Linked DNA regions of Homo sapiens. The protein of the gene in region 5 purifies or fractionates together with the protein of the main gene of each other region. This does not show direct contact. Each region holds a gene or a part of one and is shown on either strand. Other genes may lie near its edges. The genes, in order: STK40, FAM91A1, P4HA1, P3H1, ZNF397, SCAND3 and P3H2.

Evidence for each region.
Region 1: the proteins of ZNF397 (region 5) and STK40 purify together in Homo sapiens (affinity purification with mass spectrometry; 3 studies listed by BioGRID and IntAct, with this or other methods). This does not show direct contact.
Region 2: the proteins of ZNF397 (region 5) and FAM91A1 purify together in Homo sapiens (affinity purification with mass spectrometry; 3 studies listed by BioGRID and IntAct, with this or other methods). This does not show direct contact.
Region 3: the proteins of ZNF397 (region 5) and P4HA1 purify together in Homo sapiens (affinity purification with mass spectrometry; one large-scale study listed by BioGRID and IntAct). This does not show direct contact.
Region 4: the proteins of ZNF397 (region 5) and P3H1 purify together in Homo sapiens (affinity purification with mass spectrometry; 3 studies listed by BioGRID and IntAct, with this or other methods). This does not show direct contact.
Region 6: the proteins of ZNF397 (region 5) and SCAND3 purify together in Homo sapiens (affinity purification with mass spectrometry; 2 studies listed by BioGRID and IntAct, with this or other methods). This does not show direct contact.
Region 7: the proteins of ZNF397 (region 5) and P3H2 purify together in Homo sapiens (co-immunoprecipitation; one large-scale study listed by IntAct). This does not show direct contact.

The regions. Positions count from the first base shown.
Region 1 is NC_000001.11:36,340,734-36,345,066, reverse strand, and holds part of STK40 (serine/threonine-protein kinase 40), read left to right. Parts: intron 1-802; coding exon 803-947; intron 948-1,087; coding exon 1,088-1,207; intron 1,208-1,618; coding exon 1,619-1,703; intron 1,704-3,093; coding exon 3,094-3,312; 3' UTR 3,313-4,333. UniProt on the Homo sapiens protein: May be a negative regulator of NF-kappa-B and p53-mediated gene transcription.
Region 2 is NC_000008.11:123,812,956-123,816,302, forward strand, and holds the end of FAM91A1 (protein FAM91A1), read left to right. Parts: 3' UTR 1-2,497; downstream 2,498-3,347. UniProt on the Homo sapiens protein: As component of the WDR11 complex acts together with TBC1D23 to facilitate the golgin-mediated capture of vesicles generated using AP-1.
Region 3 is NC_000010.11:73,065,233-73,069,565, forward strand, and holds part of P4HA1 (prolyl 4-hydroxylase subunit alpha-1 isoform 2 precursor), read right to left. Parts: intron 3,752-4,333; coding exon 3,614-3,751; intron 1-3,613. UniProt on the Homo sapiens protein: Catalyzes the post-translational formation of 4-hydroxyproline in -Xaa-Pro-Gly- sequences in collagens and other proteins.
Region 4 is NC_000001.11:42,756,376-42,760,708, reverse strand, and holds part of P3H1 (prolyl 3-hydroxylase 1 isoform 1 precursor), read left to right. Parts: intron 1-1,318; coding exon 1,319-1,508; intron 1,509-1,725; coding exon 1,726-1,857; intron 1,858-2,786; coding exon 2,787-2,926; intron 2,927-4,253; coding exon of another isoform or gene 4,254-4,308; intron 4,309-4,333. UniProt on the Homo sapiens protein: Basement membrane-associated chondroitin sulfate proteoglycan (CSPG). Has prolyl 3-hydroxylase activity catalyzing the post-translational formation of 3-hydroxyproline in -Xaa-Pro-Gly- sequences in collagens, especially types IV and V.
Region 5 is NC_000018.10:35,246,758-35,250,728, forward strand, and holds the end of ZNF397 (zinc finger protein 397), read left to right. Parts: 3' UTR 1-3,051; downstream 3,052-3,971. UniProt on the Homo sapiens protein: Isoform 3 acts as a DNA-dependent transcriptional repressor.
Region 6 is NC_000006.12:28,576,984-28,581,316, reverse strand, and holds part of SCAND3 (SCAN domain-containing protein 3), read left to right. Parts: intron 1-1,897; coding exon 1,898-2,045; exon of another isoform or gene 2,046-2,074; intron 2,075-4,333.
Region 7 is NC_000003.12:189,974,122-189,978,454, reverse strand, and holds part of P3H2 (prolyl 3-hydroxylase 2 isoform a precursor), read left to right. Parts: intron 1-3,769; coding exon 3,770-3,897; intron 3,898-4,333. UniProt on the Homo sapiens protein: Prolyl 3-hydroxylase that catalyzes the post-translational formation of 3-hydroxyproline on collagens. Contributes to proline 3-hydroxylation of collagen COL4A1 and COL1A1 in tendons, the eye sclera and in the eye lens capsule.

The DNA.
Region 1 (4,333 bases), on a different chromosome or scaffold from region 5:
GGTGGACAGGTTGCCCTGAAAGGAGGCAAGCAGCAGAGCCTGACAGTCAGATGTGGGCCCACTGAGCAGCCATGTGGCCCTGGACAGAGCAGATCACTGGGCCTCAGTGTCCTCAAGCTGTGGAGCACAGTTAGTGAAATAAAAGTGTTTCTTCCCATGCTGTCCTAAAGCGGGTGCTCCGTTAGATGCCTGCTCCTTTTCGCTTTACAGATGAGGAAACTCTCACAGAGAGGTGAATTAAGTGGCCATCCTTCATTTAGCAAATACTTGGGTCCGTGCTGGGCACTGGGGCTCAGCAGTGAACACCGCAGGGAGGCACCTGCACCTGAGAACTTCCCTTCTAGAGGGGAGACGGGGAGTCACAAGTAGACAAAGGAGGGGACCTGCAAGTAGTCATCCGGGCTGTGAAGGAGGCAGGTGGGGTGTGGGGACGGTGACAGGAGGAGCGGCCAGCTCATCTGGAGCCAGCTAGTTATCTGCTGTGCCAGTGTTCTTGACCCCCTGCTTGTGAGCTGCTGTGCTGGGTGCTGGGGCTGCAGACCCATGCCTGGCTCCCAGGGGCTCGCCATCTGGCCGGGCGGGGCAGGTGCTGTGAGCAGGTGCTGAGTGAGCCCTCTCCTTGGGGCAGGAGAGGTGCATCCTGAGGAACAGGGGAGCGGGGAGCACGGGCAGGAGCTCAGAGGACGACTCTGGGGGGACTGGAAGTGAGGGTGGCAGGTGGAGGGTCCCAGGTGGGATTCCAGGCTGGTGAGCCACGGTGGTGCTGTGGCCTGAAGACAGTGTGGTATGTGTGTGCCCGTAGGCCGGCCGTACCGTGGCAAGCCCAGTGACATGTGGGCCCTGGGCGTGGTGCTCTTCACCATGCTGTATGGCCAGTTCCCCTTCTACGACAGCATCCCGCAGGAGCTCTTCCGCAAGATCAAGGCTGCCGAGTATACCATTCCTGAGTGAGTCCTGCCTCCCGGGGGGTGGGGGGGGCAGCCAGCCTGATGGGCTTAAGGCAGGGAAACGGCACAGTGAGCCTGGGCATCCTGGCCACAGACCCAGCACCACCCACTGAGCCCTCCTCCCCAACTCCCTGCCTCAGGGATGGACGGGTTTCTGAGAACACCGTGTGTCTCATCCGGAAGCTGCTGGTCCTTGACCCCCAGCAGCGCCTGGCCGCCGCCGACGTCCTGGAGGCCCTCAGTGCCATCATTGCATCATGGTAAGTGGACAGGCACTTGACCGGGCACAAGGCTGCGTCCTCAGGGCCTCTGCCCATCCTACCCAGAAAAGCAGCCAGTAGTCAGCCTGCTTCTCTGCCAGTTAGAGTCAGATTTCCAGATTCTCTGCATGGACAAGATTGGGAGGGCATAGGCAGAACTGAAGGTTGAGCAACTATGGGCTGCCATAGTTACCCAGGCCCTGCCAGCGGGGCATGGGCATTGCCTCACTGAGTTCTCACCACCACCTGTAAGGGAGAAATTGTCCCCCTTTATGGGATAAGAAAACTGAGGCTCAGAGAAGCAGTCTCTCATGGCAGGAACACAACCCAGGTGTGTCTGACTCCAGTTAAGTCTGGGATCAATGGACCTGGTCTCTCTGGGGCCAGCCTGACCTGTCTGCCTCCCTGCAGGCAGTCCCTGTCATCTCTGAGTGGGCCTTTGCAAGTGGTTCCTGACATTGATGACCAAATGAGCAATGCGGATAGCTCCCAGGAGGTGAGTTGGGGAGGGCAGATGGGCCATTACCCAGCCCCAAGGGACAGGCTTCTGGGGGCAGGCAGGGCAAGGGCAGAGGTGGCAGCTACCCGCAGGCCACAGAGTTTCCTTGGTCTTCTTCCCCAGCCTTGGGGTGGGAAAGGGAGACTTCAGTCCTCAGCCTGAGCTGCCTGGGGCCTGCCTTGGGCTTGGTGTAGCTGGAGATCTTTGGCCAGAGAGACCTGTGAGACAGCCGAGCTGGAGCCAGTGCCCAAGTGGCCCAGGCCAGCCCTCTCAGCTTCCTCCTGCTGCCCAAGTCACATTTCTCTGCCCCCTGACTCAGAGTTCTCTCTCACCCTTCCTGCTTTTCATTTTTCAGATGATTCATTTCTCCCTATTTCTTTCCTCCCCATTCCCTGCACTGGAGAAAGTGTTGGGCCTAGGGTGGGGGCAGAGACTTGGGCACCAGGCAGCAGAGGGCAGGTGATCTTAGGGTGCCCCCTGGAGGGCAGGGCTTGGCCGAGCAACAGCATTGCTGGGCCCTGGATATTGGAAGGACCTTCCCTCCCTGGCCCACCTTGGAGCTCCACAGTGAGCAGTGTGCAGGTAGGACCAGGAGGGGCCGTGCCTGGGAGAGCCTCCCAGAGCCTCCTGGCCCCCGAGGAAAGAGAGTTCCAATCCCTACCCACCTCCAGCTTCCACCCTTTAGCTGTTTGGCTAAAATCATCATCACTAGCCCGCAGTGAGTGCCTACCCCGAGGGCACCTCATTCAGCCCTCACTGCGGGCCTGCGTGGCCTGTGTTCTTAGCCCCATGTTACAGAAGAGGAAACAGGGTTAGAGAGGACTTTCCCAAAGCCACACAGCTTAGAAGTAGTGGAGCTAAGCCTTGAACCCAAGTCTCATCCGGAAGCCCTGCTGTCTCCTGTGGTGACTGGCACGGGGACACCACTTCAGCTTCTGTTACCATCTGCCTAGACCATCCCAGGGAGCTCAGCATGGGGCCCTGCGTATGTGGCTCCTCCAGGTGCTGCGCCCCCAGCCCAGGGCTTGCTCGTACCTCTTGACGTGCATTAGCCGCCTCAGGGCTCAGAGAACCTTTGCGAGGGGCCAGACAGCTAAGGCTTCTGAGGTAAAGTGACCTCTCACGCAGCCAGTGAGTTAGGAAGCATGAGTCTGCGTCAGTCCCGGGTCCGCAGGGCGGCCTGCAAGGGGAGTTGAGGTTGGCTGGAGGGGGTCAGGGACCCACCCTCAGCGCCACTCCCACCCCCGGCCTTGAGGCCTGAGGGTGTGGTGCCTGGAAGGGTGACTGCAGGAGCCAGGCTGCCAGCACTCTTGCCTGCCCTCCTGTCTGCTGCGCTGCCTTCATCTGGGTTTATCTTTGTCTCCTTCCCACCCTCCCCGCCTCAAAGGCGAAGGTGACGGAGGAGTGCTCCCAGTACGAGTTTGAGAACTACATGCGTCAGCAGCTGCTGCTGGCCGAGGAGAAGAGCTCCATCCATGACGCCCGGAGCTGGGTACCCAAGCGGCAGTTCGGCAGCGCACCACCGGTGCGACGGCTGGGCCACGACGCACAGCCCATGACCTCCTTGGACACGGCCATCCTGGCGCAGCGCTACCTGCGGAAATAACAGCCTCAGCCGGGGCCACCAGCACTGCTGCCACTTCTTCCAGCCCCAGCCAAAGGCGTGGCTGTCAGGGCTGGGCCCTGTAGTGCTGGACTCTCCCGGGCCACAATAGGGACAGGGCAGGGACAGGGACAGCCCAGGTCACACGTGGGGTCAGCAGAGGTACCACGAAGCTACCTTTTGGGATGATTGCTCGATTGTTTGGTTTTTAAATCTGAGAAGCCTAGATAACTAATCTGCTTTTAATCACGATGTTTTAATCTACCTCTGTCTCTTTAACCATGCTGTCTCTGGACTGAGCAAGAGGGAGGAGGGAGCCTGCTCACCCCACTCCAGGGCCTTCCCCAGCGGCCACCAACTGACCTGGGGCGCTGCTCCCCACAGTCCAAATAAGCTGAAAGTGCAGCTCGCTGCAGGCCCCAGAGCGAGCTTCCCCTCCTCCCTGCTCTCCCAGGCCCCTGCCACAGCCTCTTTCCGTCCCTCTCTTTCTGATCCAGGCCCCTCAGTCCAAGCTTTGGAAAACCTTCACCTCATCTTAAACCGAACTCAAATATATTTATTTTTTTACCATACCAACTTCTCTCCCATCTCTAGGTGGCTCAGTCCATGGCCACTCCCTGCCCCCAGCCTGGCTGGACAGCAAGGAATCCACAGCCCACACGTGAGCTCCCTCCTCACCCCCAGGCAGGGAAGCCCCTCCTGCCAGTCCCTGTCCCCTTTCAGCCCACCAGTCCCTCTCTGCTGCCGGTGATGGGAGGCCTTTCTAGACCTGGCTCTTTCTCTCCCGTCTCAGTGGCTTCTCTGAGGTGCTGTACACGCGCGTTAACCTGTTCCCTTCTCTATCCTTCCCCGTGGTACTGAGCTCACGTGGACTCCCAGTGCGAAGGGGCCCATGGGTTGGGCTGCAGGCCTGGCCGTGAGCGGGGGCTGCCTGCACGCTCCCCTAGCCTACTCTTGTGTTTAGGGGATGGTGGGAACATATCCCAGTGCCCTTGCCTCATAATAGATGTGGTGACTCTCCCGG
Region 2 (3,347 bases), on a different chromosome or scaffold from region 5:
CTAAGTATATACTTTATAGGCTTTATGATGACTGTTATGTTTATAAGCAGTCACTATGAAAATTGCAATGGTAATTTTATATGTTAGTTTATCAAACATAAATCTTGTTTAATTTTATATTTTGTTACCTATACTTTGGGGGATCAAGGGAAGAGATGGAACTCTTCCTCTGAAAAGGCTTCTTGGTACTTAAAGTAGTAAAACTATAAAACAATAAACATCCAGTATTGAGAGATGATATGATAGGGCATTATGAATTCCTATGGGTGTCTGTAAATTATGTATGTCAGTTGGACATTGTAGAAGGTATGTAAATCAGCATAGTTGTGTATAACTTAACCTTGATTTATAAGGTCTTAAGATTATGACTATTCATTGACATCTCATGAGAAGCTTTAGAAGACTTTCTATTTTTAAACACCATTTATATGTGGACTTCTGTTGTCACTGACTTTGGGCTTTATATTTTCATAGAGTCTTTATGGAAAAAATAGAATTTATTTTCCACTCTTGTAGCTATAGCTGCTGCACACTTTCACCCTGATTTATTTTTTTGTTTCTTAGCTTTGATGTTTTCAAACCAAGGATTGTGATTTTAGGTTAGAATTACATATTAGAAGCATTAAGACTATGTCTTTGGATCAGAATGCTTTAGTGATAAACCTACTTTGAAGACATACTCTTAAGCAATCTGGATCTTAAATTTATGTGAATACTTTTTTAGAAAATGATAAAGAAAAATGGAATTACTTCAAAGTGTTTCTTGAGTCATTGATTCTTTTAGCATCTCAAATGTTAATTAGAATAATTGGAATCACTTTTTAGACTTTTCAAGTTACCTTCCTTGGGAAGTTTGTGCAGTGTTATAGTTTAGTTTAGCTCCTCTTACAGGGTAATGGTTTGCTAGTTTAAAACTGTAACCAAACGAACTGGTCAGACAACATATATCTAAAACACTTAAAATGTTAGGAAGTTTGGGAATGTTATAACCTAAACGTTTTTGCTGGTAACTTTTTGTTATTTATAGATATTTGTGTATTTAACATACATACTTCAGGAAATATATGCCTTTCCTAAAACTTAACCATGCATTCAATACCATGGCCTATCTATAGAATTGAATATTTTGGACCATGTTATCTGTGGCACAGTCAGTGCTGTGTTTGAGGTAAATGCAGTAACGGTTAGTTTTCTACTTTGTCTTATAGAAGGTAGAAACCATGTGTATGTTATGTTTGTCTATAAAAGAAAAAATACTAATATTAAATAATTTCTTACGACTCTGAGTCACTCACTTATTTTTCCAATAATTGATATTGTACATTCCTAGTGCCATTAGGTATGTATGTATGTAACTTTTACAGTTTTTCAGCTGAAAGTTGTAAGTATTTTTTTTTTTTGATCGGGGCTCTTTAATCTCATTTTAATTTCCTTTGTTTGAACTGTAGTTATTTTATTTATTCCTATATTAACCATCTAAACCAACTGTAATGACATGTACACTAATACAGAATTGAACATTTGTAGTTGTTGGCAGTGAACCCAGTTGTTGGTGAATTTAAAGCTTAAAATATGGGAATGATTTGCTGCTATATTTCCTTTGAGAGAGAAAGGAGGAAGAAATAGAACCTAATAGTGATCATGAATTTTAGGGAAAGTACCGAAGAACCATGGGGTCCCCTCTGGTTTCTTGTGTTGAATGAGGCAAGGGTAATCATCTGATTCCGAGCTGAAGACCTCTGGTCCTCTTAAGGAGGGAGAGTGCATTTTTAGAGCTTTTAGCAAAATGTGAAAAGCTGATGTTTGCGCCTTGCTTTGTGAATTTGGCTTTGTTTTACTTATACATTAACTCATGTAATCTCTTAAATCTTACAAGCATTGATCCATTTCAACAAAAAGGTAAATTTAAAATGCAGACTTTGTTATTTGCCAAAGAAGATTCATGAAAAATTTACGTCCAATTATTTTGCAAATAGTTAATTTCATTTGGCTTTTTACCATGTTCCTTCCTTTCTTTTTCCCGCTTCCTTAATGTAATTTAAACCCTGGCAAACATTCTTTAGAAACCAAGAGGAAAGAAAGAACAAATATCAAAAAAGACATAGAATTTAATATTGATACAATTTCACCTCTAAAATGGATTTGAAGAAATGCAACTTTATATCAAAAAATGTCATCTGATTTCCTTTGTTTCTTTTTTAAATTATGTAATCAGATGATTTTATGTTTTTTTTTCAGGGGAGCGGAATATTGGTTTCTTTTACTTGTTGTTTTCAGTTTTCTCTGCCATTCATGTTTCTTTTTTGTGTTCAGTGTTTCAAATACAATTTGTATTTAAGGATTTTAAAATACCAAACTGTAACTGAGTACAGTGGATCGTTTTCTGTTAGGATGTTAATATTATACAATGAAATCTATAAAGTGTTGTCAATTTGATTATTGACACATATAACATGTTTACAAATAAACTGTGGTATTGATCAAGTTACTATGAAAATGTGTTTAATTTTCTGAAAGTTCCTGTCTTAATTTTAAATACAACCATGGTTTGGTGCTGTGGCTTTCCTGTACTTAAAAAAAAAAAAAACCCACAAAAAACTTAATTATTTTGTAGTAATTTCAGATTTACAGAAACTGGCAAAGATAGTCAGATGTTCCCTGTACCCTTCACTGAGCTTCCCCTAGCGTGGACACCTTCTGTAAACTATGGCAGGTCTATGAAAACTCAGAAGTTAACCCTGGTACTAGTATTTTCTAAACTGCACACTTGATTAGGCTTTTACCAGTTTTCCCACTAATGTCTTTTTGTTGTCAAGATCCAGTCCAGGATACCACATCGCATGTATTTAGTTATCAGTGTCTCATTAGTCTCCTCCAATATAACATTTTCTCGGTCTTTCATGACCTTGACACTAGAAAGAGTACCGGTCAGTTATTTTGTAAGACATCCTTCAGTGTGGGTTTGTCTGATGTTTCCTCGTGATTAGACTGAGGCTACGTTTTATCAGAAAGGGTACTACAAAGGTGATGTGCCCTTCCCCCCAGTACAACATATCTTAGGGTACATGATGTCAGTATGTATCACTGGTGATGTTTCTTTATTGGGTAAGATGGTGTTTGCTAGGTTTTTCCACTGTAGGGTACTCGCATTTCTATTGCTGGGCCTGTGTATTCCGGCTATGGAGAATACCTGGAGAGGCAGCCGCCATATGCTGGTCACTGATTCAAAGCATATACCGTAAGATAGCTCTAAGAACCGCAGATATACACATGTGTGAGACTCTCGGAGCTGAGAGAGCTATAAATTGTTATTACTGGTGAGTTATAAGTTGATTCAAGCTCTGTAG
Region 3 (4,333 bases), on a different chromosome or scaffold from region 5:
GCTTAAAAAAAAGCATGATATCTTTGGCAGATATGGATCTATTCAACAAATCAGGGTTGGGAACAAACAATCTGAAAACTGAAGGAAGTCCTTAAGAACTATAAGGACAACACTGATGTCAAAATGCATGTAACCTATCAGATTTTTCATTAAAATACCAACAAAGCATTTCAAAAGATAGGCCCAAAGAGGCAAAAGAAACAGATGAAACTAATCAAGGAGTGATGTGGCATCAATATAAATTCACTAAGCATTTCTCTGACTTTTTTGTTTGAAGAAAATTTAAAATACATGCATCCTTCCTCCCTCACCCCCACCATTTCACACCCAGATTGCTAAAATTTTTAAAGTCTGACAAAACCAAGAGCTGGCAAGGATATGAAGAAATGGGAACTCTCATACAATGCTGGTGACAGTATAAATACATGCTCTGGAAAGCAATCTGGCCACATCTGGTAAGTATGATGAAAAACCAAATACCCTATGATTTCTTATACCCTAAGAGAAAGCCTTGCACGTGAGTACATGGCCACAAAAAGAAATCAACAAAGATGTATCAAACTTCATTTGATAAAGCAAAAAATTGGACAAAATCTAAATGTACATCCATCCACAGAAGAATGAATAAATAATGTTATACAATACCACATTAGCAGTTAGATGAATCTGATCAACACAGATAAATTTACTGAAAATATTAGGTTAAAAAAAGGTTGTAGAAAGATACATAGAGTATGATGTACTATTGACATAAAATTTAAAAACACAATACAATGGAAAATATATATGATAAAGTATAAAAAGATGACAGGATACGCACCAAGTTCAGAATAGTCATTACCTCTAAACAAGGGAAGGTGCACAAGAAGCCTTCGAACACATTTGTGATATTTGACTATTAACAACAGAAAATAATCTGGGTTGGGGGAGCCTAAAAACTCTTATGCTAGTATTCATGCTATTATTTTTACCACTTATAGGGTATAATGTGATTAGGAAATTTCAGTTATTCTACTTATAAGGAATTTGCCTGAAAGAAAAGTCAATAAGAACTAGCCCAAAACTGTGATAAAAGAGGAAAAAAGTCAACAAGGAGATAAAAAGCACCTGAGAAAGAATGAATATTGCCCCTAAGACTAAACACAGTGAAATCAGGGTTAAATAATATTCAGGACCATTTTGATGGGAATATAATCATTTTTTAAACAAAACACATATAGTAATCTAAATAACATTTATTACCCACCACCACACATTTGGGAGGCTGAGGTGGGATGTTTTCTTTTTTGCTTTTTGTTTTTTGAGATAGGGGTCTCACTCTGTTGCCCAGGTTGGAGTGTAGTGGCGTGATCACAGCTCACTGCAGCCTTGAACTCCTGGGCTCAAGTGATCCTCCCGTGATATGGTTTGGCTCTGTGTTCACACCCAAATATCACCTTGAATTTTAATAATCCCCACCTATCAAGGGCGGGACAAGGTGGAGATAACTGCATCATGGGGGCAGTTCCCCCATGCTGTTCTTGTGACAGTGAGTTCTCATGAGATAGGATGGTTTTATAAGCACCTGGCATTTCCCCTGCTGGCCCTCATTCTCTTTCCTGCCACCCTGTGAAGAAGTGCCTTCTGCCATGATTGTGAGTTTCCTAAGACATCCGTAGCCATGCGGAACTGTGAGTCAATTAAACCTCTTTTTTAAAATAACTTACCCAGTCTTGGGTATTTCTTCATAGCAGTGTGAATACATCCCACCTCAGCCTCCCAAATAGCTAGGACTACAAGCAAGCACCACAACACCCAGCTAAGTTTTCATTTTTTTGTAGAGTCAGGGAATTGCTATGCTGCCCAGGCTGGTCTTGAACTCCTACCCTCAAGGGATCCTTTCCACCTTAGCCTCCCAAAGTGCTGGGATTACAGGCATGAGCCACCATGCCAGCCCTATTTTGTTAAATGGAATCTATCCAGTTGATGAAGCCAGAAATTCCTATCAAGTACATCATCAAATTCTACTATTCTACTCTAATAAGTAGCTTGATAATCTATCCACTACCACCTCTTACTTAAATATTTGCAACAGCCTCCTCCCTGGTTCTTCGTCCCTTGGCCCCAACCCAATCTCCATTCGGCAGCCAGAATGGTTTTCTAAAAGGAAAAATCATAAATTTCCCTTACAAACTTTTTAATAGCTCCGCACTGCACTCAGGACAGTTCAATCTCTTCCACATGGCTTACAAAGCTCTCCAAGAGATGGCTTCTGCTTACCTCTCTAGTCTCAGCTCTCACTACTCTCACAAAGCCAAACCCCCATATCCACCTGGTGCGTTCACCTCTTGAACTCTACATTAAGCCATACAAACTACATGTTAGTTATCTGAATATGATATGCTCTCTCCTTTTGACCTTTCTACATGTTCCCTCTGTCTGAAACACTTTTCCCACACCCACTCCTGTCTCCCTCTCCCCCATTTTTCTGGCTAATTCCTGGTCCATTAGATCTCAATTTTTTTAATGTGTATCTTCCAGGAATTCTTCCTTTACATCCCTTATGAGGTCCAGCAATAGGTTTCTTTTGATGTGCTCATATGGTATCCTGAATTTCTCCCATCCAAGCACTCATCTTACTATACTGTAAGAATGTTAAATACCCTAATGGCGAGGGTAGTGTATGTCTTGTTCATTATGTGTCCCCAGTACCTAACATAATAGCTGGCACATATTAAGTATTTAATATCTATGAAAACCTGAAACCAATTTTAAAAATAAGGTTATAATCTTATCAAAAGCGTTATAATGTATAATATTAGTAGAAACTGAAAATTTGCAAATTTGTACATTTTTGGAAGTTCAAATTAATGGAATTATATTCCAGCTTAACAGAAATTTTATTTACTATTATACCATGTTTAGTTTTTACCAACGGATACCTTCACCTCAAATAAAGGGAGATGAGCAAGAAAACATTTTGATTAACAACTCATCCCAGTGATTTTTTCTTACGGAGAAAATCAATTTCAATGTGAAGACACAGACAACATATTTTATTTCTGCAGCTGACAATAACAGGAGATAGTAGTGGTAATGAGTCACAAACTTTGAAAAAGTGAGGGACGGCAAAAGTAAATTATCATGAAAGCAACTGTAACTTAAAAAGAGGACTTTGCCAAAAATAGGTCAGAAAGTAGGATGTTCCATACTATGGAACACTTTAAACATATGTGGATACCCAAAACATCTTGGCTTTTAATTATTTAACATATAAACTTTGACTATCAATCCCTTATAGCTTTACATACAAAGCTTTCAAATAGTATTAGGTGTTCTGAATAAAAACATTTGGTGAAATGATAGTTTCTTTTCCTTACACACTAAAATTCCCTACTTAAGTTAGTCTCTATCAATACAAGCTTTCAGAGTAACAAGCTAGAAGCTAGAAGCATACCCGTAACTATTAAGCCCTAAGAGAAAGGGAAGGTGATTCTTTAGTCTTCGAAGGCTATGAAACAAACTACAATTTAAAATCTTAAAATGCAAGTCTTTTTTATACTAACATTGTGTTAATGGACTCAACAGAGAAGCTAGGTGATAGGTATTTTATAGAATGGAAGAATGATCTTACCTGGAAGATTACCCTTTGAGATGGTATCTGTATCCAAATTGTAGGTATCCTGGAGACGTAACAGAGCTTTGGCTGCCCCAACCTGATCTTCATCATTAGGAAAGTACTGTCTCTGAATGGTTAGGTTAGAGATAAAGCCTTGAAATAGATAAATCAAAGAAAAAAAAACTGTAGAACCTCATAAACTTCCCATAAAGAGACTTAATAAGGATTGTTCAAAATCTATTTTATTATTTTCTACCACACCATGAAAAGTTCTACATACTCAACAAGAAAAAATTAAATACACTGAATAAGACTTGGCATACTTCTAACTTGTTCAATCTTCCAAAAGCCTAGTGTTGCTTAAGGACTGTGACGCTGTTATATAAATTGTATCTGTATTAGCAGGTAAAGATCACCTAACATAATAGTTATGAGTTTTTAGTTATATAACACAGCAAGAAAACAAAGTGCATCCACTAAGTTTGAGAAATGAACACATTTATGGGTCTGAAATGACATTCATTGACAATCAATTATACTTCCAGATAACAGATGGTAAGTAAAATATGTGCTCTTAAAGTTGTTTTTTTCTTCCATGTATTACACATTATATAAATATGTAAATATATAAAGTTTGGTGGAATTCTTCAAGGAGAAGGAAGAGATATTAACTATATATTTAAGATCAACAGCAAAGCTAGTTTACTAAAATATATTTAAATCAGTTTAATTATC
Region 4 (4,333 bases), on a different chromosome or scaffold from region 5:
CACTCCAGCCTGGGTGACAGAGCGAGACTCCATCACACACACAAAAAAAAGTAAGTTGTGTTGGCCGGGCGTGGTGGCTCATGCCTGTAATCCCAGAATTTTGGGAGGCCGAGGTGAGTGGATCACTTGAGGCCAGAAGTTCAAGACCAGCCTGGCCAACATGGTGAAATCCTGTCTCTACTAAAAATACAAAAATTAACCAGGTGTGGTGGTGTATGTCTGTAATCCCAGCTTCTCAGGAGGCTGAGGCGCTAGAATCACTTGAACCCAGGAGGTGGAGGTTACAGTGAGCTGAGATCATGCCACTGCCCTCCAGCCTGGGCTGTCTGTCTCAAAAAAAAACTCTGTCTCAAAACAAAACAAAACAAAAAGTAAGTTGTGTTTATTTGAAAACTGTTAGCCCTACAAAAAAGTGCAAGAACCTAGGCCAGGCACGGTGGCTCATGCCTGTAATCCCAGCACTTCGGGAGGCCGAGGCGGGCAGATCACCTGAGGTCAGCAGTTCAAGACCAGCCAGACCAACATGACAAAACCCCATCTCTACTAAAAACACAAAATTAGCCAGGCGTGGTGGCGCATACCTGTAATCCCAGCTACTCTGGAGGCTGAGGCAGGAGAATTGCTTGAACCCTGGAGGCGGATGTTGCAGTGAGCCAAGATCGCACTATTGCACTCTAGCCTGGGCAACAAGAGTGAAACTCCGACTCAAAAAAAAAAAAAAAAAAAAGTGCAAGAATCTGTCACTAATGGGGGGGGAAGAAAAGTACAAGAAAATCATAATGAACTCCTAGATATCTTTCATCTAGATTAAGAGTTAAATGTTTTTTGGCCAGGCACAGTGGCTCACACCTGTAATCCCAGCACTTTAGGAGGCCGAGTTGGGAGGATTGCTTGAGGTTAGGAGTTGGAGACCAGCCTGGCCAACATGGTGAAACCCCGTCTTTACTAAAATACAAAAATTAGCTGGGCACAATGTAATCCCAGCTACTAGGGAGGCTGAGGCAAGAGAATCACTTGAACCCAGGAGGTGGAGGTTGCAGTGAGCTGAGATTGTGCCACTGCAGTCCAGCCTGGGCAACAGAGTGAGACTCTGTCTCAAAAAAAGAAAAAAAGAGCTAAATGTTTTTAAATTTCCAGAGCTAAATATTTTGTAAAGACCATTTACAAAAGGCCTTCATTTTATAGTGGTACCCAGGTCACCCCTTTCCATCCATAACCTGAGGAACAGGAAATTAGGACCCCTGTGAAGGTGGCTGAGGGCAAGGAGAGAGGGTTCCTCCTCTGTGGCCTGCATTTGAGTGCTCCTTCTTCCCAGTAGCAAGAATTTCGACTGGGAGTGCGACTCTACTCAGAGGAACAGCCACAGGAAGCTGTGCCCCACCTAGAGGCGGCGCTGCAAGAATACTTTGTGGCCTATGAGGAGTGCCGTGCCCTCTGCGAAGGGCCCTATGACTACGATGGCTACAACTACCTTGAGTACAACGCTGACCTCTTCCAGGCCATCACAGGTGCGTGCAGTTCAGAGCCAGACCTTCAGCCAGGCCTCCTGGGACTCTAAGGTCACCATCTGATAATATAAATGGGGACTCTTCACCCTCATTCCTCAATTTATTAAATCTGAGAAGCTGATGAAAAATTGCTTCCATTTGAATTTGTTCATCTTAACCAGAATTTGAGTTCTAAAGAGTGACCTCATAGTTATTCCTTCTGTTTGATTCCTTTCAGATCATTACATCCAGGTCCTCAACTGTAAGCAGAACTGTGTCACGGAGCTTGCTTCCCACCCAAGTCGAGAGAAGCCCTTTGAAGACTTCCTCCCATCGCATTATAATTATCTGCAGTTTGCCTACTATAACAGTAAGGCCTACTTTCCTTCCTCTTTCTCTGCTGGCTAACTAAGAAGCTAAAGGCAAGGTGGGCAGGGATTACAGCCACTTACTTCCTCAAGGTGTTTGGCTTATTTCAGTAGCTATGGGAGGCACCATGCCAAGTGATCCCTGGGTAGTTTGTTATAAACAACTGGCCTAGGAAGCCAATACCAGCAACCCAAAAAGCTGGGGGAGGGAGACTTAGGACCTCATCTCTTGTCCCTTCTATAACTTGTAATCTATTTTTGCTTTTGAATTAAAGTTAATAGCAAAATAAGGGTATGCCACAGTTTAAACTAGCTCAGAGGACATTTGCTAGCCCTCTCCCTGGTATAGCACTGATGCTTTTGTGGGGCTGCCAATTAATACCCAGAAAACCAACTCTTTGCAGAGTCCCTACTGTGTGCTAAGCATTACAAACATATTGATGAGTGTACAATATTTACAGTTGAGTTGAGATGACTAACAAATATCAACAAGAACTATTTTGCCAAAGAGACAATCTGCTATTGTAATCTTCCTTGTCTTCTGAAAATCTATAGAAAAAAGAAGGTAGGAAGACAGGGAAATTGATCTAATGATTGAGTGTATTGAGGCAAAATATTAAGGAGTATTGGAATTATTTGTGAATCTTAAAAGATGTGGGCATGCAGAGAATTCTGATTCTTTTCTGTTTCATTGTTAGGCAGCCCTGAGGACATTGACCACCTCACCTTAAAATTAATCACACATTCTATGTGTATTACTTAACTCCTGCCCCTGAAATCAGGCCATCATGTTAAGTAGCAGGCACCAGCTTGTCATGCTGCCATTGCCTCAAGCTTTGTGGAGACTGAACACTAAGTGGTCCCTGGTGCTAGGATTTTATCCTTTCCTTTTGACTCTTTCCTCTCAGCCATTCTTCTTTCCACTTTGCAGTTGGGAATTATACACAGGCTGTTGAATGTGCCAAGACCTATCTTCTCTTCTTCCCCAATGACGAGGTGATGAACCAAAATTTGGCCTATTATGCAGCTATGCTTGGAGAAGAACACACCAGATCCATCGGCCCCCGTGAGGTGAGAGACTTCCTTCTGTTATGACAGCTGCCAGCTGAACTCAGACCTGAGGGCGGAAGAGTGGGGTAGCAGAGGGGAGTAGGCGCTGTGCGTGCAGGGCAGGGGCCAGATGTCAGTGTTGGGGCCAGATGTGAGTTCAGTCACTCGGCTTGTTATTCAGAGGAGAAGGGAGCACAGGGAGGGAGTGTGGGGAGTACACAGGAGCCTCAATTAGCGTTATCTGGGCCCAGAAGTCTATTCTCTGAGTCCCGCAGAACTGCGCGGTGAGCATATTCTTTCCCCTCTTGGCACCCCTAACTTGGACACTCGATATTATTTGGCCAAGAGCTATCATTTTTCACTTAATACTGGTTGTTTTTTTTCTGCTCACCTGTTTTCTGTCTCCATTTTCTTTCCCATCTCTTCTTCTTCCTGCCATTGTTTGTTCTCTCCCATCTTTCAGCATTTTCCCTGTCTCTCTCCAAAACCAGGAGAAATATCTGTATAACACAAAGACTGCTGCGCTGAAAGGAGACACCCAGGCTCTTCTTCCGAGCTCTGGAGTCTGAGAGCCTCCAGTAGAAACAGCCTCTTGCTGCCCCTCCTGTGTGGGTTGTCATTGTAGTTGTCCTCTTTAGCCACTAGATGGTGACCATCTGGCTTTAAGATGGCACTTCCGGTCTCTTTTGTCTTGTTTGGTTAATACCTTTTCCCTGCCTTCCTTATGGCCATTAAGGGGAGTCTGAGGGGAGTGAGGGGAAATAAACCCACGTGGCCAATCTAGCATTTTTAACTAGAAGTCCCCTTTTGGAAAGAAGGCAACTAACATTTGTTGAGCCGCTGTCCAGGCGAAGCTCTGTGCGGGGTGGGCTGTATCCATCATCTCATTTAATCATCACAGCCACCCTGCAAGGTTGGCACTCTTCTTCCCACTTTAGGGATGAGGACTGTTAGCATCTGAGAGATGAAGTAACTTGTGCAGTGGCTTGTGGCCAGTCAGTGGTGACCGGAATCTGTTCCCTGCTTGGACCCAGTGCAGGCACAGCTCCAGACACATGGCTGACACTCAGTAAATCAGCATCGAATGAATAAAGATGGAAGTGGGGTTTGCTTCATAGCAGCCTTATAGGGTCATTGGAGAGGGTTAAATGAGATAACATAGCATTTGGTGACAGAAGCCAGTAATGTAAACTCCTGAAGAGAAAACGTCTCTCTTCCTCTTAGGTAAATATAGTAGATGACATAGGATTCATTGACTCCTTTAATTCCTCCTTGAACTGCCTCATGTTTTATTTCAACTGATGTCTCCTTTTTCTCTTCCTTCCTCCTCCTGCTGCTTGGAGATTAGCAGGGCACCTAGGGAAAGATGTGACCCCGGAAAGTACTCAGTTTCCCTGCCCTGGGTAAGCCTTGCCTGGGAGTCCATGT
Region 5 (3,971 bases):
AAAGGTGGGGAAATGGCTTCATCAATGATTTGTTGAGCCCAGGGCAGGCCAGGAATTAGATAGGCATGAGAAGAAAGAATATAATTTACCCAAAGGTTATTTTTTGAGTACCTACTTTGTCCCAGGAACTAGGAATACAGTGGAAAACAAGACTGTAGTCTCTACAGTCTAATGGGCAAGGCAGCCAGACAGGCAGTGAAAGTGGAATGCTCCTATGTGACCTTAAGGAGCACCTGACTCAGCCTTGGATAAGGAAATGGGGGAAATGGCCTGAAGGATGAGGAGGAGTTAGCCAAGGTGGTACTCTAGGGAAGTGGTACCCCAGTAAAGAACAGTAGCCAAAGGCCAGAAACAAAGTGTGGAGCATTCCTTGAGTTCCTGTTGTAGTGAGGTCTTGTCTGTCAGAGAAGTCTGGGTCTGGCCAGACTCTTAAGCAGTGCCAATGGAGAAGTTCCTGTTAATAGACAAAACCTGGAGCCCTTGGGCCACAGGGTAGTCAAGAGCTTTGTCTTGGTTTATGTGACCCCAGGGAAAGGGCAAATATGTGGTTTCCTTGCCCAACCTGTAGGCTATCCTAGAACTTCCATGAGGGTGGTGGTGGGAATGAGGGTGAGAAAGAGCCCAGCCTATACCTCAAGAGTCTGCTAGAGTGTTAAGACTCTATTCTCCTTTGATTCTAAAGACAATATCAGAGCTGCTGTCAGGTTTCTTAAAATTCCCAACGCTCTGGATCAGAAGCTGCCATATCATTTGTTTCTGGGGCTATACGCCCACAATTCCTAGTACATTCCCTTGGGCTTTGGTGCTCAAAAAATATTTGTCAGTTGCTGGGTCTGTGACATTCTTTGGGCACCTCGCACATGTTCAGTTTTGTCTTATGTCACCAGTATTTCACAATATCTTTTGCAATTTTTTTTTTTTTTTTTTTTTTTTTGAGATGGAGTTCGCTCTTGTCCAGGCTGGAGTGCAATGGCACGATCTTGGCTCACCGCAAACTCTGCCTCCTGGGTTCAAGCGATTCTCCTGCCTCAGCCTTCTGAGTAGCTGGGATTACAGGCATGCACCACCACAGCTGGCTAATTTTGTATTTTTAGGAAAGACAGGGTTTCTCCATGTTGGTCAGGCTGGTCTCGAATTCTCGATCTCAGGTGATCCGCCCGCCTCGGCCCCCCAAAGTGCTGGGATTACAGGCGTGAGCCATGGCGCCCAACCATCTTTTGCAAATTTTATTAAAGACAATGCTAAAAGGAAGTGACAACTGAAACTAATGGTCACAGTCAGTCAAGACTTCCCTTTTCTGAGGGGCCTAGCAGGAAGAGAATATTTAGACTGATGCTTAGTGTAAGAAGGAATGTTGTACAGGTTAACCAGCAACACAAAGACATATTCAAAAGACCTAATAGGTCAGAAGAATAACATACCACACCAAAAACAAATCTGTATGGAAATCTAGAATCATGTGCATAGAAAAAGAATTTTCATGAGGATAAAAAGAAGCAAAGAGAAGTAATGCTCTTATTGGGGCGTGCATCAGTGGACATGTGCTAACCAGTAAGAACAGCAGGAGGCCTAAATGCCCATGTTTAGGGAGAGAATATGGAAAAAATGGATGGGATTATTTGGAAAAGATGTAAGAGATTAAAATACGTGGTAAGAGCTACTCAACTCTTGTTTTTCTCCTTTTCCATAGATAAAGACCTGAACAAACTGAAAAGGTAGGACGTAAAGTAGGAATTGTAAAACGGAAATACTCTTTATATAAGAAAGCTCTACTGTATGTCAGAAAGCAATGTAATAGATAGACCAAGCACAGTGGCTCACACCTATAATGCCAGCACTTTGGGAGGCCAAGGCTGGAGGATTGCTTGAGTCTAGGAGTTCAAGCCGAGCCTGGGCAGCATAGTGAGACCCCATCTCTACAAAAAATAAACAGAATTTGCCAGACGTGGTAGTGCATGCCTGTAGACCCAAGTATTTGGGAGGCTGAGGTGAGAGGTTCGCTTGAGCCCTGGAAGTCGAGGCTTCAGTGAGGCAAGATCACACCACTGCACTCCAGCCTGGGAGAGCAAGACCCTGTCTCCAAACCAAAAAAAAAGGAAAAAAGTAAATGTAATAGATACTTGCTAAGGGCTTTGTATATACTTATTATTGTTATTTCTCAGCACGTATGTAGCAGATGAGGAAATGAAGGCTAAAGGTCATATATCTACAAAGTGGGGAGGTCAGACTTTGAACCCACAACCTGACTGTGGAGCCACTTCAGTATACTCTCTCCCCATAAGAAAGTTCCAATAGAAAAAAAATGCTACTTAAGTAGGGAAATCACAAAATAAGTGCCAATGAACAATAAATGTTCAACCTCACTACAGTTAAAATGTATATTAAAGCAAGAGTTGAGATGACACTTTTCCTTATAAAACAGACAGGGATTCAGGGACATTGGGACTCTAATGCTGCTGGTAAGACATGAATAAATACATACCATCTCTGGCAATCAATACCAGAAGCTTTAAGCATTGCCTTTTGACTTTGAAATTGTACCTGGAAATGTATGTTTCAGTAACCATCATGAATGTACACAAAATCCTGAAACTCTTAAAACTGATGTCACAGGCCAGGCACAGTGGCTCATGCCTGTAATCCCAGCACTTTGGGAGGCTGAGGCGGGTGGATCACCTGAGATCAGGAGTTCGAGACCAGCCTGACCAATATGGTGAAACCCCGTCTCTACTAAAAATACAAAACAATTAGCTGGTGTGGTGGCATGTGCCTGTAGTCCCAGCTACTTGGGAGGCTGAGACAGGAGAATTGCATGAACCCGGGAGGTGGAGGTTGCAGTGAGCCGAGATTGTACCACTGTATTCCAGCCTGGGTGACAGAGTGAGACTGTGTCTCAAAAAAAAAAAAAAAAAAAAAAAAAACACTGATGTCAATTAATATTAAATGAAGTATTCATGATATATTGTTAAGTAAAAATATTACAAAACAATATGTACAGTATGATCCTATGTAAAATATATATTTATGTATTAAAAATACTGAAAACATAAAGTGCTATACTGGTTATGTGTGGGTGCTGAGGTTGTAGGTGATGTAATTTTTTTCTTGTGCTTTTTTGTGTTTTCCAAATTTTTCTATAGTAAACCTCTAATACTCTTAAAATTAGGGGGCAAGAGTGAATGGAATCCCAGGATGCTTGAGAAAATATTTTAAAAGCACTTGCTTTTCATAGCATCTCTTGTCTCTTCCAAGTTTCAGGAAATTAGCTAACTTGTTAACTCTGATCCCTTCATCACTGGTAAAATGACAATGGTAAACATAACCATCTCACACCTAGTATATTAAAAAGTCTACAAAGTATAAATCTGGGTGCAAAAGGAATTCTTGCCTGAAAGATTTACAGTTGAGAAAAGCAATAGCTTTGAAGTGGAGATCTTTGATTATTAGAGTTTTTCCATGTATTCCATAGCCATAAGCAAGTCATCTTCCAACTCTAGACCCTCACTTAAAGGAGCTGATGTAGATGATCTCTTATGGTCAAAACTTCAACATTCCACTTTTTATGAAATGGAAGGGGCACCAATATAGGGTGGATGTCAAAGGAAATTTTTTCGTCTTCACCACTCTTGCTTGGAAGAAAAGTAATTCATGCCTTTCCCTTCTGCTCAGGGCTGTCCTGTTTCTCTTGGTATAGAAGCAGTCCAGGGAATAATAATGTCTACCTTAAATGAGTCTTAAACAGATTTTAAAAGATAATGTGCAATTTAGTGTACTTAACTTTGATTTCCTGCCTTTCCCCTTCCCTCATTTCCATAGCCTGCAACTAATACATCCAGCTGAAAGGATTGGAAATTTAAAGCAAATCTGACCCTCATCTCTCCAAGCTCATTGAAGACCTGCTGAGGGAGGAGGTGGTCATGGCAGGTCCACAGGTCTAAGCTTGGTCCTTCTCAGCAATTAGTGTTGAAGAT
Region 6 (4,333 bases), on a different chromosome or scaffold from region 5:
ACCCAGGCTGGAGGGCAGTGGCACGATCTTGGCTCACTGCAACCTCCACCTCCCAGGCTCAAGCAATCTGCCTTCCTCAGCCTCCTGAGTAGCTGGGACCACAGATATGTGCTACCATGCCTGGCTAATTTTTTGTATTTTGGGCAGTGATGAGGTTTCACTATGTTGCCCAGGCTGGTCTCGAATTCCTGAGCTCAAGCAATCCTCCCACCTCGGCCTCCCAAAGTGCTGAGATTACAGATGTCAGCTACTGCACTCAGCTTCTTTCCAGCGTTAAAAAAAATCAAACCCAGGAATTGAATACTGAAAGACTAATGACTGTCATGACCAGTTTGAAGTAACTTCAGTTTTGTAATTTATTACCACTACCCAAGGTACTCTTCAAACTTCTGTGGTAGAGGCAGAAGTGGAGTTCCTCCCGGTTCTAAGACCAGGCCCACCCATTTTGGTCTAGTCCAGCTGGTGGAAAAGTAGAGGAATCAAGAGACTAGATTTGTGTTTGTGCTTGGGGGGGTGGGGGGGTGGGGGAGAGTCAGTGAATAATTCAGCACAATGAACCATATCCATATTTTGTTTCTTAGTTGCTCCAAAAGCTGGGATTGTGTATACTAACATTACAGAATTGATACATTGTTTAATTATAAACAGCAGGTGGCCCTCTTTCACAGATTCTGTTTCTGGCAGTTATGCAAAGATTTAGACAAATTGAAATGCATGCTATTATATTATACAAAGCAATTTACATAAGATACCTTATTAAGCTCAGAGAAGGGAAAAACATACCAAAGGGAACTGGCTTAACCATTTTATGAATTTTGAGAAAATGATTTTTTGAAATGTGCTTTGCACAGTTTAAGAATTTTTTTTTTTTTTTTGAGACGGAGTCTCGCTCTGTCGTGCAGTGGCATGATCTCAACTCACTGCAACCTCTGCCTCCTGAGTTCAAATGATCCTCCTGCCTCAGCCTCCTGAGTAGCTGGGACTACAGGCGTGCACCACCTCGTCTGGCTAATTTTTGTGTTTTTAGTAGAGATGGGGTTTCATCATGTTGGCTAAGTTGGTCCCGAACTCGTTACCTCAGGTGATGCATCCACCTTGGCCTCCTTTTATTAGTCCCAAAATGCTGGGATTACAGGCATGAGCCACCATGCCCGGCAAGAATAAATTTATTATGTGGTATCCAAGTTGGAGGAAAGGAGCATGACACAGAATCTTAAATCCCAACATGATATTCTAATAATATGTAGGCTTTCATCTCCTCCTATGTCACTGGATATTCCCTTTTAGAATATTCTGGTTTATGTGCAATTTTGGGATTCACTATCCATGGACATTTTCCAACTCGATGTAGCGTAAGTGTAACCATTAATAACTCTGTAATCCTTTAACAATTTGTACATTTTCTTAGGCCTGGTGAATCTGCATTATTAATAGTAGAGACAGGGTTTCTCCATGTTGGCCAGGCTGCTCTCGAACTCCTGACCTCAGGTGATCCACCTGCCTCGACCTCCCAAAGTGCTGGGATTACAGGCATGAGCCACTGCACCCAGCCCAATATTTACTTTTAATTAACCACACTGGAACTCATTTACAATTTTTTTCAGTCATCACGGTTTAGGAGATATTTCTTTAACGTGCTTTCATTGTTATTCCCAGAAACAGAAACCAAAGGGATGCGTTTTAACTCCTGTCCTATAGAGACATCAGTTTCTGTTGTATGGCTCTGGCTTTATTAGTCCCAGCATTTTTCATTTCTCTTCATGTTTTATCTTGTACTTAAGAATTCAGTAAAGACTGATTTTCTTCTTACATTCTATTTTAGTGGAAGAATACAAGTTTAGCTATGACAAACTACAATTATTTGTATTGTTTACCAAATGCACCTACTTGTCCACAGGTCTCACAGGGCACATATGGGCAGGAAGTTTCTATGGAAGAAATGATCCCTCTGGATTCTGCAAAGGAGTCTTTAGGCACCCAGCTTCAGTCTATGGAAGATAGAATGGAATGTGAATCTCCAGAGCCACACCCACTTCAAGATAATGGTGAGAATAATTTAGTTCTAAGAAAGAAGGTGAGACTTGGGAGAATGAAGGGTCTAGTATTGAAAGTTATCAAACCTCATTCCATTTCAGCTTCTACTGAATGTATTAATAGTTGAAGGAAAAGCCAATCAGTATAGTGTAATGTTATTAAGGGAGTTGAATTAAAACAGTCAGATAATAATGTCAAAAATACTTGAACACAAGATTTTTCATGGATACTTTGTAATGAAGTTAGTAAGTACCTGTGGATAAATCAGATACCTCTGTATGTAAATACTGAGCACTTGTCAGTGTAGTCATGGGTCCCATTGCTGTAGCCTCTGACCACAATTTTTGTCACATAATGACTGTGTATACATTGGAAATACTATTTGGAAATTCTACCTTAGAATATGGAATTTCTGAAGTCTATGTTTATTAGTGTTCTAAGGTCTGTTATTGGTATAATGTATAGTAGAGGTGGAGTCTGGCCTGGTTCTGGAACAGCTATCTTTTCCATTTAAAAAGGATTAGGTAAAATGGATACAATGTTTTTCTCCTCTTATAGCCCTAACAATTTTCTTAGACATTAATATTGATTCTACAAACTTCTGGGGCTCATATTTTCCTGGTTCTCTTGACATTGCCCTGTATTTCTTCTTCTAATTCATTCTTATTTATTTTCCTTCTCTGCTTCTAGTTCTATAGCATGGCACAAAATGGATCAGTATGGAAAGAAATGCTATCCATAGGATGGTCTTTTTCAGTCACATTTTGAGATAGCACTTACCATTATTGTTATTTTATTATAAAGTTAACAATTTTCTATTGAACACTAGATGTAGTAACGTGTTAGATAATGTGAAAGATACTAGAGAAATAAGTGATCTCTGTTTCTTTAGAAACTTACAGTCTTGTTGCATCTACCTATAAAACAGTTAAAGAAAAAACTGCGATAGTGCTAACTTGTGTTATAAATAGATAATGATTTTCAGGAAAGGAAAACTCACTGTGAGTTTAAATTTAATGATCAAAGAAGCCTTACTGGAACAATTGAGAGTTAAATGAGGCCAAACCACACAGTAACATATCATTAATTTTAACCTAGTTTTAGAAAATATAAACATTTTAGATGATTTAAATTTAGTAGTTCATTACTGCTACAGAACCAAACGGGTTCACTTGCCTGGCACAGGAAAGCCAAACATCCACATCAACAGGAGAAAAGAGGGCATTTATTTGCAGAGTGTCAAGCAAGGAGAATTGGTCCCCTCAAAATTAAGACCCAGTTTCCCCAATGGTTTGCAAGTAAAGTTTTTTTAAAAGAAGGGAGTCAGAGGTTACAAGCAAAGTCATAAATCAATACGTGGACACTGTACATTATTTTGACCTAAAAAGGTAGGATGGACATCTCAGAGAAGGGGCTTACAGGTCATAGGTAGATTCAAAGATTTTTTGATTTGCAATTGGTTAAGGAGGCAAAGCTTTGTCTGAAAATTTGGGATCAGCAGAAAAAAAGGTTAGCTCTGGCTTGCGGGTGTGACTTCTTCCAGGCCCCACAGGAAGAACTTTAGAACAAAGCAGCGGTTGGAGTTCAGTCCTCAGTTCCCCATTATCTGAGGTCTTCAGACCAGTGGATCCATTTGGTGGAGGTATGGGTTTCTGAAAAACAACTTAGGGATATATGTTAAGATGCTATCTTTAGTTAATATAGGGAACATCTCATGACTAACTTTTTTGGATGTTGTTTTAAGGTATTACCTTCTTGTTTATCAAGTTGCTCATTTACTTCTTAAAGATAGTTAGATGCCTGGAATTTCCCTTGAAGGAACTCAAGATTTTCTGTTATTACCATGCTTGGGGTTAGGGGTGGCTGACAGGCCCCTAAGAGGGGTCCCTGCTCTGTCTCACTATTTGGTATGCAAATTGATAGTATAAATGATGTTGACTTGAGTGAAAGTATTTTTCCAAGCAACTATAAAACTATCTAGAGATGTTATGCTAATTCCAAATTATTATTTTTTACTTTTTCCAAAATAGTTTTTTTCCTTAACACTTAGCCAAATTTGAAGTATTCTTAGTGTTTCTGTTATTATGAGTATTCTAGAAATTTCTTTTAATAAGCTTTATTAAGTCAGAAATTTTTCACTGATTTTGACTCATCCAGTACTCTTATTAAAATTAGTAATGAAGCTATTTGTATTGAGTTTGTAGTTAATAGCCCTAAAAGGGAGCTGATATGAATATATTAGGTTGGAACTTACTCCTCAAATGTTGATGTAATAGCTAACCTGACTGAATAAAAGAGA
Region 7 (4,333 bases), on a different chromosome or scaffold from region 5:
GTAGCCTTCTCTTAAGGCTCTATGCTTATTAAGGTGTCTCAATCAGAACTTAACACAGTATTCCAGGTGTAGCTTATTAATTCAACAATAACGATAGTAATGATAATACATACTTATAATGGAGCTTAAGACTGGTAGACATTTTCCTAAATATTTCATTTTTGCTAACTTTCAAAATCATATTTTGAAAATAAGCTAATTATGTTTAAAATAATACATCTTCAATGTAGAAAAAGAGAAAAACTTGGCAAAGTATAAACCAACTTAATTCACTAAATCTCTCATCTGTCTTTCATTTCTATTTGAGTTTTTATTAGCAGATGCTTTTCAGTGAATCTACAAGTATCTTATCTTTCTTCTTGAAGGAACATTTCTTTTTATACTTCTAAATTGGAATGGAATATACAGTTCACTTTTCCAAATATTCGAGGGAATGCCTGTCTCAATTTGACTACAAACTTTAATCAGCTACATAGATTAGAACAGCCTTTTCCAAATTGCGTTCTATGCTAAGACGTTTAGGGGGGATTTTTAAAAGACTACTTGGCTGGGCGTGGTGGCTCATGCCTCGAATCCAAGCACTTTGGGAGGCTGAGGAGGGAGGATGGCTTGAGTCCAGGAGTTGAAGACCAGCCTGGGCAAGACCCTGAAAATAAAAAAATAACAAGACCCTGACAAAAAAAAAAATAAACTAGGCATGGTGGTGCGTGCCTATAGTCCCAGCTACTTGGGAGTCTGAGGTGGGAGGATTGCTTGAGGATAGGAGGTCAAGGCTGCAGTGAGCCATGATGGTGGTGCCACTGCACTCCAGCCTGAGTGACAGTGAGACCCTGTCAAATAAATTTTTTAAAGACTACTTTTTTTATTGCTGTGAAAACATAATGAAAATATAGCAGCTTATGAAAATATCCATTTATTATCTCATAGTTTCTGTGGGGTAAGAGTCTGCAGAGAACATAACTGTGTCTTTGGCTTCAGGATCTCTCACCGGTTTCAGTCAAGTTGTTGACCAGGGCTGAGAATTCAGTTCCCAAAAAGTTGTTGGACTATGGCCTTTTAGTTCCTAGTTGGTTGTTGGCTGGAGGACGCCCTCTATTCCTTGCCATGTGATCCTCTCCAGTACAGCCGCTTGCTTCATTACAGCATGGCAGCGGAGAAGGCAAGAGACTGAGAAGGCAAGAGAGAAGTTGCAATTTCATGTAACATAGTCACAGAAATGACACCTTATCACCTTTGCCATATTCTACTGTTTAGAAGTAAGTTCCAGGTTCCACTCGCACTTGTGGGAAGCAAATTGCACAGCTGTATGAATGTTGGGAGGCAATGATCATTGCAGCCCATCGTAAAGTCTCTGCTGCAGGAAGGAAGTTGGGGGAGTCGGGGAGGGAGAGAATTGTATTCAATTAAGGCTAAAAACTGCTGCATATTATGTTACTACTTAGGACATTAATAAGGCCTGTTCACATATTAAAAGTTCTGAGACGTCCTCTTATCTTTTATTTAACCCAGTACTTTCCCAGAACTTTCAATGCAACACAATTTGAGAAATAGTGAATTGTAGAAAAGCATATTTTTCTATTCAACTAAAAGATGTGATACTGAAACGAGGCTTATGGATATATTCTTGGGATCCAAAAATTCCATATTTATAAATTTTAATCACAATTTTCAAAAATTAAGAGAAGCAATTAGGGGTTATCTAAGGGATCAACTTCTAGCCAGGTGGTGTCATGGGATTCCACAGTTCAATGGGCACAGTTATGGTCATATTAACGCCAACTAATAATACTTCAATGATTAAAGACTAGAAATAAATGAAATACGATGCACTTATAAATAATGTATTAGGCTTAGATGAAAGCTGATATGGTTTAGCTGTGTCCCCACCCACATCTCACCTTGAATTGTAATAATCCCCATATGTCAAGGGCAGGGCCAGGTGGAGATAGTTGAATCATGGGGGTGGTTTGTTCTCCTGGTAGTGAATAAGTCTCACAAGATCTGATGGTTTTATAAACGGGAGTTTCCCTGCACAAGCTCTCTTGCCTGCCACCATGTAAGACATGACTTTCTCCTTCTTTGCCTTCCACCATGATTGTGAGGCCTCCCCAGACGTGGAACTGTGAGTCCGTTAAATCTCTTTTTCTTTATAATTTCCCAGTCTCAGGTATGTGTTTATTAGCAGCAAGAAAATGGACTGATACAAAGGCCAAAATTAATCGTGGTACATTAAGATTGTGTAGTAGTTTAACTAGAGAAAAGTTGTGGTAGAATAGTAATTACACACCAACAGTACTATAAGGAATCCTGGCTCAAAAGAACCCAGACCAGATCAGTGAGTAGAATATTCATGTGGAAGGTAGCTTTTTATTTTCAGAAAAATAACGTTAACCATTCCATTTGTTGATTGGAATTTAGTTCATTTTATGGTCTTGCTTTTATTTAGTCTTGTAAATTGGTTTGGGTACTGTATGAAACTACTAAAATAAATAATGTGAACATAGTTTTATGATTGCATATATAGAAGTAAAATTAGAGTGAAAATAATTTGTCAGCACTGGAGCTCCTTAGGGAACTTCTGCTTTAACAGATAACCGAACATTACTCTAGATTGAGAAACACTGCCTCATGCTTTTAATATTCCATTAATCATGAGCTGTAGTGAGTCTTTTATCCTAGCTAGACTAATAAACATTTAGACAGTGCTCTTCCCTAGGCTGACTAATCTATTTTATAAAGTAGACATCAATTTCAATTGTCTCTTCTTCCTCTGTTGGAGTGTTTTAGGCCAACGTGTTGGTGACCTTTGCTAGACCTGGGGTGGCAGGGAGTTGTGCCTTCCCTATCCCTGCTGTCTTATCTTCGGCTGTTGCTATGGACAAGCACGCACCAGGCCCCTTGGGAGTGTTATAAATGGTTAGAAGCAGTGTTTTCTTTTCTGTTCCATTTTCTGGTTCAAAATGTTTGCACTATGCTACACCAGAAGATTTCCTCTCTATCAGAGGCTTTGTCCTTCAGTCCTACTCTATGAAAAAAAGTCTTTGTCAGGTCTGGATTTTGTAATTTCACAACCTAAAATGTGACCCCAAAGCATCACCCTCTGAAGAGCCTATCTGGAGTTAATTTTATAAACTTGTGGTCTCTCTCTGGGAAGAGAGTAGGTGCCTAAGGGAAACCCTCCTGTGTGGAAATAGAAACGTGATGATTTTGCCTGGAGAACAGAGAAAAACACTCCAAAAGCAAGACAACCTAGGGTCAGTTGTGTGGTAGGAAGAAGACTGAGGCAGAGTCAAGTGACTTGGGTGTGACTACCTGAATCACCTAGTGAAGGTGTTACTCTAGACACCAGTGAAACTGAGGTGTGCATGTCATACCTGGGGACCCAAACATGCAATCTGTGGTGTTGCGACAGAGGTATGAATGAGGGGCTGTGAACAAGGGTGGACTTTCTCAGAAGAGAGTCCTATGAGATGCCCAGTCGACTTTTTGGGATCAGCATTAGAAACAAATGCAAAAGTAGTTCTATCTCTCCCAAAATAATGTACGCATGTAACATTATTATGACATTATGAGGAAACCCGATAGACATCTTTCTCCTGAATCTATATTGTGTTTATCAAGCTTCCTAATTTGCAATTTGTCTTTGCATTTCTAAATATTCATGAAGAAATGGACTCACTCGAATTGCACATTGAAAGCTGTTTGGTATTCTGTGCTTCCTTTCGGGGGACAGAGGTAACAGGGAAGACAATGTGCTCTGTTCCTGTAGGTGGTCCTCTACTCTATGAGAACATCACATTCGTCTACAACTCGGAGCAGCTGAACGGGACTCAGCGGGTTCTCCTGGATAACGTCCTGTCGGAAGAACAGTGCCGGGAGCTCCACAGCGTGGCCAGTGTGAGGATCCGGAGAAGGAGGGGAGCTCACTGCGCTGGCCTGCCAAGAAGCTGGAACTGCTTTGGTCCTGGTCTCATCTGGAGCCAGACAACAAGCCCTGAAATATTGCTTTCTTGAGGAGAAAGACATAAATTATTTTTGAGGAACTTTTATAGCCTTTGGGTTGGGATTATTTTAGTTTTCCCGGGTGGGATCTGGAATAGCTACTGGCATATTTCCTAGCCCAACAGCCATCTAGCAAGGTCCCTGCCTATCATATAAAGTTGCTGGAGAAATCCTTTTATTTTAATTAATTATTAGGCAATATATCAATAATTTACATTCTTTTTATTTCCATAAAAAGTGACAGTATTTGATAATAAAAATGTAGAATGAAGATTAAATAAAGATATCTCTTTTAATTAAAAGAATAGTTATACCAGCATCCTGGAATAAA